2 linked regions of the Homo sapiens genome follow. The protein of the gene in region 2 purifies or fractionates together with the protein of the main gene of each other region. This does not show direct contact. Each region holds a gene or a part of one and is shown on either strand. Other genes may lie near its edges. The genes, in order: CRCP and CALCRL.

Region 1 (3,827 bases), on a different chromosome or scaffold from region 2:
TGAGATCAGCTCGTGACATTTAATGTTCTCAATAATTAGAGAAGAATTACTTTGGTTAGCCTAGAATATACTCACTTGTGTTTCTAAATTAGTAAGCTCATTTTCATCTAGATAATGGGAGGCTAGAGAGGTCCTGCTTTAAGAGTAGAACTATTGGTTCTACCAATTTTGGCTTGGAGGCACTGCGTCTGTAAGAACCAAGTGGCCCTGATACTCAGCTCTTGGTGTGAAGTGCTTTGTAAGGTTTATCTGAATTGAATCATTAGGGAAGAAGCAGTGTTAATAACATAGAAATGGTTGGCCCTGTTCACATTAATGGTTAATAAATAAGGTTGCATCATTTATGGCTTCTGGAGTCCAAAAAGGACATCTACACATATTGTTTCCATGAAGACACCACCCTTCACCCTTTCCCCAGCCTTGTGAGTTTAGCAGATGATCCTTATTCAGTGGTAAGGATAATGAAACTCAGAGAGGTCAAATACCTTTTCCAAGGTCATGGTGCTATAAGGGGCAGAAACTGGACTACAGCCCAGGTTCCCCGATTCCAAGCTTGTTATGCTGTGGTCAGATGCTAGCAGTTGGGAGTTAGCAGATATAAATAAACTGTATTTTGGCCCATTTGATTGAGATCTCTACCTATGACCTAAATTTGCCTTCTTTTCCATGAAGCATTTCCATTTCCCCTCACCCGTCTTTTTTGAGAATGTAAATTAATCTCTGCTAATTTTGCAGAATAAGCAGGCAGAGTAATACAGTATCACTAGGATAAATGAACTTTCTTCATTTATAAAAAAAAAAAAAAAAAGATTTGTTCCTTACTCTAGTCCCTATGTCTAACTTTCAGTTGTTTCATCTCCAATACTATAATCCTTCTTTAAATCCAAACCCAGCCGAATATCAATACACGGTTGCTACGAATGTAGCAACTATCATTTCACCATGTGTCACGCTCTTCCTACTTAAGAGATTTACTTACTTGGTCAACTTGTGGCTTTTCAATGCTGTGAGAAATTCTCTGACAATTTCAGGACTCTGGTGCCTGCATGGTGTTTTTGATATGTATTTTAACGTCTGGCAAAAAAAAAAAAAAAGAAAAAAGCCAAGCATAAGACAAAGAACCCTGAATGAGAAAAAACAAAGGCAATGACTGTAATTAAAATTCTAAAATTTTGTTTGTAAAAATCCTGTAGAGGCTGGGCACGGTGGCTCACACCTGTAATCCCAGCACTTTGGGAGGCCGAGGTGGCCAAATCACCTGAGGTCAGGAGTTCGAGACCAGCCTGGCCACCATGGTGAAACCCCATCTCTACCAAAAATACAAAAAATTAGCTGGGTGTGGAGGTGCACGCCTGTAATCCCAGCTACTAGGGAGGCTGAGGCAGGAGAAACACTTGAACCTGGGAGGCAGAGGTTGCAGTGAGCCGAGATCACACCATGGCACTCCAGCCTGGGTGACAGAGTGAGACTCTGTCTCAAAAAAAAAAAAAAAAAAGAAAACAAAAAAGAAAAAAAATCCTGTATAAAACAAAAAGGCATTCAGGAGAACCAATCTTCGTGTAATTGGAATTTCTGAAAGAGAAAACCAGTAGCTAGAAGAGGAAGAATAACTAATGAAATTTTAGGAGAAAACTTTTCTGATCTCAAAAAAAAAAAACCCTCAATCTGACAATTGTGTTATATTTTGAACAATTTTTTTAAAGAGGGGGAACCCAAAGAATAAAATAAATTGCCATGAGTCTACATGGATATATACGACTGAATAGATAAACGGGTAAGAAGAGACAACTTTTTCTTTTTTTTTTTTTTTTTGAGACGGAGTCTCACTGTCACCCAGGCTGGAGTGCAGCGGCACGATCTCGGCTCACTGCAGGCTGGAGTGCAGCGGCACGATCTCGGCTCACTGCAAGCTCCGCCTCCTGGGTTCACACCATTCTCCTGCTTCAGCCTCCCAAGTAGCTGGGACTACAGGCGCCTGCCACCACGCCCGGCTAATTTCTTTTTGTATTTTTAGTAGAGACGAGGTTTCACCGTGTTAGCCAGGATGGTCTCGATCTCCTGACCTCGTGATCCACCCGCCTCGGCCTCCGAAAGTGCTGGGATTATAGGCATGAGACACCGCACCCGGCCAAGAATGAGAAAAATTTTTAAATCACTCTTAGGCAATTGTACCATAGTCATAACTACTGCAGGAAAGACCCACCAATAAATGCTAAAATTGATGGTTAAAAGCTTAAGCAAAGGGTAGGCTGTTTTCCTAGCCGCAAAGCATCTCCCACAAAATATTTTTTAATTACTGTGGTGGTTTTAACATACAACCACAAATTCTTCGATATCCCTCCCTTCAAGAGGTGAAGCTTAATCCCCCCGCCCCGCTTCCCCTTGAATATGGGCTAAACTTGGTAAGTCCTTTCATCTTATTTATTTATTTATTTATTTATTTGAGACAGAGTCTTGCTCTGTCGCCCAGGCTGGAGTGCAGTGGCGCAATCTCGGCTCACTGCAAGCTCCACCTCCCAGGTTCACGCCATTCTCCTGCCTCAGCCTCTCTGAGTAGCTGGGACTACAGGCGCCCGCCACTACGCCCGGCTAATTTTTTGTATTTTTTCTTTTTAGTAGAGATGGGGTTTCACCGTGGTCTCGATCTCCTGACCTTGTGATCCGCCTGCCTCGGCCTCCCAAAGTGCTGGGATTACAAGTGTGAGCCACCACGCCCAGCCAAATCCTTTCTAACATAATGTGGAAATGAAGAAACAGTAGATTTACAGTGGAGAAACCAGGCAGATACCATCTTAACGAAATGACCAAAGTTAACAACATCACCCATAAGAAACATCAATATCATGTACCCCCAGAAATCAGGACACGAGAAGGGGAGATTACCTCTGTGGTACTCTTCCTCAAAAGCCATAGGTTTTGTGTAATCATAATAAAACATCAGGCAATCACAAATCAACAGACATTCTACAAAATACTTGACGAGACTTTGGAAGTGTCAAGGTCATGGAAGACAAAGGAAGAGTAAGGATATAGATTGAATGACATTATGGGGACATGTTAACTAAATACAAAATGGTATCCTGAACTGAATCCTGGAACCCAGAAGACAGCAATGGGAAAACAGGGCATTCAAATAAAATTTAAGTTTAGCTTAATAGTATGTACCAATGTTAATTTCTTGGTTTTGATCACTGTACCATGGTTATGTAAGATATTAACATCAGAGAAAACTATGGGAAGGGTACATGAGAACTCCCAGCACTGTCTCTACAACTTTTATGTAAGAGAAAAATGGCTGGGCACGGTGGCTCACGCCTGTAATCCCAGCACTTTGGGAGCCAGAGGTGGGCGGATCACATGAGGTCGGGAGTTTGATACCCGCCTGACCAACATGGAGAAACCCTGTCTCTACTAAAAATACAAAATTAGCCGGGCAAGGTGGTGCATGCCTGTAATCCCAGCTACTCGGGAGGCTGAGGCAGGAGAATCGCTTGAACCCGGGAGCCAGAGGTGAGCCGAGGTTGCGCCATGGCACTCCAGCCTAGGCAACAGGAGCGAGAATCCGTCTCAAAAAAAAAAAAAGAAAAATGATTTCAAAATAAAAAGATTTTTCTTTTTTTTCTTTGATTTGCAATGATGTGATGCTTTCTCATGATTACACAGATTTTGTGGCTTTTGAGGAAGAATATAGATAAAATTTCGGAGGAATTATAATTACATATTTTGGAAGGAATCTCAAACTTGAAAAATAATAGCCTTAAGCGTGTAAGTTCCCAGCACTTTGGGACGCTGCAGTGGGAAGATCCCTTAAGCCCAGGAGTTGGAGA
Region 2 (3,827 bases):
AGATTGCGCCACTGCAGTCCGCAGTCCGGCCTGGGCGACAGAGCGAGACTCCGTCTCAAAAAAAAAAAAAAAAAAAATTGAGTTATGCCTGAATTCAACTGCATACCTCTTATACTAACTTGCCACTGAAAAATTCTTTTTTTTCCTTTCAGTTCACTATATAGAATAAACAGGTAATTGTACTTTCAGTGAAAACTTCAAGTGGAAGTAAGGTAATTATTTGAAAAACATATTTTTTCTTTTATGTAGAGGTCAAATTTCTTATATTGGCAAGACATTCATTTGCTTTAACAAAGTGTTGCCAATGTAGCATGTTATACATCTTGTTTAAAAGCATGGGCATTTTAGCAAATAACAAATGCATGTATTTATTGCACATAGTAATCTTTATTTTAAAAAATATTATTTTTCTAAAAAATTGGCCTATTTATATGTAAAACACGAGGACAGTATTTGGGAGAACCAAATTTCTGGCCTCTTTTGGAATGAGGAATGTGCCTACAGGTTACATCTTTAAAGTTAATAATTTTGTAAATATATACACAATATCATTTTTAAAAAGCACTTCTCTATAGATGAAATAAACATTCTCTGGTTTTAAATTTTAACCCTTCAATTAAAATTTAAAATTACTTGTGAATATCAGTTGAACAGTATTTGTTCTTGAATAAAACATACATAAATACAGATATAAAAATATTGAACATGATTTTATTCCAATTCTTTATCAATAAGAAATACAGTTTATGTGTGTAGACTGCTTTAAGCTTGCCAAATACTTTAACAGATACCAACTTCCCTGATATGGAGATTATATATTTTGATTAAAAAGATAACTCTTTCATTCTAATCCTCTTTATTCAAGTACTGTTTCATTCATAGATTCTTGGGTGTGGAAAGAGCATTAAAGATCCTCAGGTCTAGCTATGAACCCAGTATAGGAAAGCCATCTACTTCAACTTTCCTGAGTGACAGGAAGGCAAATGCAAGGTTCATTACATTTTGTTTAGTTATATTCGTTTTTTTAAATTTTTTTAATTGAGCTATTTTTTTCTCTGTTTATTATACCAACTGTATTCTCAATTATAGTAATTTGGATTCTTGAAATCATACATTGTGCCTTATATATTTTGTCTTTTTCTGGCTTAACACTCTTGGTGTGGTACCTTGATGCCCGGATCAGTTGATATTTTCTTCAATTTCTTCACTTGATAAGCTAATTTTTATGATATCTTGCTTTTGCTCTCATATAGTGAACTAGGAGAATAAGTGGTCTGATTTGAGATTTAAAATTGAATACTCTACATTTGTTGGTATCATTTGGCTTGCAGCATTGTTTTCACTTGGCAGCCCTACTCTTATCTAATTAGTTCACAGCAAGCATTTTCCATTAAATCTTAGACTCTTTCACATGAAGGAACATAAATAATTTTGCATTTGACTTTAGGAAATTGGTGCAGGACTTTACTTATCTTTACTAAATTCTAACTTGTTTGGGACTGTATGACTTAGAATTCTAGAAACCATTGTCCTTCCCTGTAGCCACTGGTTTTGACAGGCAAATGTAATTATTATACTTTGCAACTTTATCTTCTTCAAAAATTTAATGTGCTCGGATATTTCAACTTATGACATGCAAAATAAAAAGAGACCATTTAATCTGAAGACTTTCAGCTGTATTAGTTTTTAATTTGCAGAGATAGTGGTCTTCCAAATGTTAATTAAAATTTTACCCTATGTCTACTATCGTTAATTGCAATTCTGGAAATATTACAGTAAGTAATTCGGGAAGATTTCACTGAGGAAGTGATGCTAAAATTTAAATCTAAAAGATAAATACATTTAATTAGACTAGGGAGGAGGCAAAGAGAACAGGCAGGGCAAGTTAATGATTTTGATTTTATATTAATTACAATGGAAAATCTAAAAATTTTAAAGCAAAGAATGGCAAAATCAGGTCAATATTTGATCTAAATATTTGAAACTACTATTCTGGCTGCCTTGGTTAGAATTAAATGAAGAGAGAAAGTGAATTTACTGAGGCTAGATAGAACAAGACTGCTGGTGATGGCAGTAGTGATCAGGAAATGGAATAGATTAGAAGGGTTTCAAAAGGTTAAGTTCACAGGTTATAAGGAAAGAGTGACAGAGAAGAAAAATGAGAGAAATGTATCACAGATTACTCTTAAATTTCTGGCCAATGTGATTGGATTTCTGGTAGTGTCATTTGTAAAGATGGGTCACTCTGGAAGAAAACCAGCTTGGGTTAGGAGGAGGTAGATAATATGAATTTGTTTTGAACATGTTCATTTTGAAATATTTTTGAGATGATGTGTTTCAAGAGCCATAAAAAGATATAGACCCTTTGACCAAGAAATCCCAAGACTCTGGGAATGTAGCCTGAGAAAATAGTACAAACTATGGGAAAAGTTATAGTCAAAAATGTCCATTGCAGTGTTTTTTAATTGAAAAAATGAAAGCAATGTTAATGGTCGAAAATAGAGAATTGATAATAACAACTTTTGTACACCTACTAAATGAAAAATTATTTAGCTGCTCAAATGATTGTTTAAAAACTGTTCAGTAACATATAAAGTGCTAATGATAAAATGCTGTTATAAAAATAGTTAAAATATTTTAAATACTATAATTAAAACTGTAGAAACAATATGAAATAAAACTAGAAAAATGTTAGAAATTGCTTAATAGGGTATTAAAATTATAGGTATATATATCTTCTTTGTTTAAAATTAGTAGAAGAAGGAAGTTGGAGGAAGAAGGAGGGGTAGGAAGAGGAATAAGAGAAGAGGAGGAGGAGGAGGAAAAAGAAGAACAAGAAGAAGGAGAAGGAGAAGAAGAAACAAGAAAGAGAAGGAGGAGGAGGAGGAAAAAGAAGAACAAGAAGAAGGAGAAGGAGAAGAAGAAAGAAGAAAGAGAAGGAGCAGCAGTGGCGGTGGCAGCCACAGGAGCAAAAGGAGCAGAAGATGACTACAATGCGATGAAGATACAATGAAACATAGCTACTTACTCTTGTCACGCTGAATTCTATGATTATATATATGCTGATGATCAAAGTTATGAAAATCATGTGAAGGGATAAAATAATGCATGCATGACTTAGAATTTAACTTTCTATAAATTTAAAATTGGTTGTTGATTGCTTTGTTCAAAAAATTGGAGCTGACTCTTCCTCCTCAAAATGGAGTGAATTACAAGTAAAATTGAAAGTACAATTAAACCTTTTTAATGATGACCCGCCAAACGAGGAAAAACCCTAAACAAAGTGTATTTAGATTATATTTTTGATGATATATGTTAAATGCCTTTGCTATTATTTGCACAAAATTCCGGTTTCTAAAATGGACACTTATTCTGTTATTAAAATTGTCCAAAAGCTAAACACACAATTAAGAAGGCCTATACTATTTAACAGTTCCCAAAGCAAATACAGTTAGGTTTATATATTAGTTTGGACTCCCTTCTTATTATATGTCTTCACTTTTATATGCCTACTAATTTTGTAAAATTCAGGTTAAGATATTTCATCAGTCTCCTCTACATATTTTACAAAGCTAAGATCAACTTATTTCAACTTATTTTAAACATTATAAATCATCTATATTGGTATATTTTGTCAGACATGATGTAAATATGCACATGATGGGGCATTCACCCAAGACATCTAGTAATTTTCTTAAAATATTTTAAATTTACTTACTTGAAATAAAAGAATATGCCAAGCGAGATAAGCAGTGATGCAATAGACAATCCGTGTCCAATTATGGTCAGGTAAAACAAATTTAGTGCAGTCTGTAATTTGTATAAAC

Evidence for each region.
Region 1: the proteins of CALCRL (region 2) and CRCP purify together in Homo sapiens (affinity purification with western blotting, with the first as the bait; one study listed by BioGRID). This does not show direct contact.

The regions. Positions count from the first base shown.
Region 1 is NC_000007.14:66,131,527-66,135,353, reverse strand, and holds part of CRCP (DNA-directed RNA polymerase III subunit RPC9), read right to left. Parts: intron 1,075-3,827; coding exon 980-1,074; intron 1-979. UniProt on the Homo sapiens protein: DNA-dependent RNA polymerase catalyzes the transcription of DNA into RNA using the four ribonucleoside triphosphates as substrates.
Region 2 is NC_000002.12:187,375,222-187,379,048, forward strand, and holds part of CALCRL (calcitonin gene-related peptide type 1 receptor precursor), read right to left. Parts: intron 3,811-3,827; coding exon 3,719-3,810; intron 1-3,718. UniProt on the Homo sapiens protein: G protein-coupled receptor which specificity is determined by its interaction with receptor-activity-modifying proteins (RAMPs). Together with RAMP1, form the receptor complex for calcitonin-gene-related peptides CALCA/CGRP1 and CALCB/CGRP2.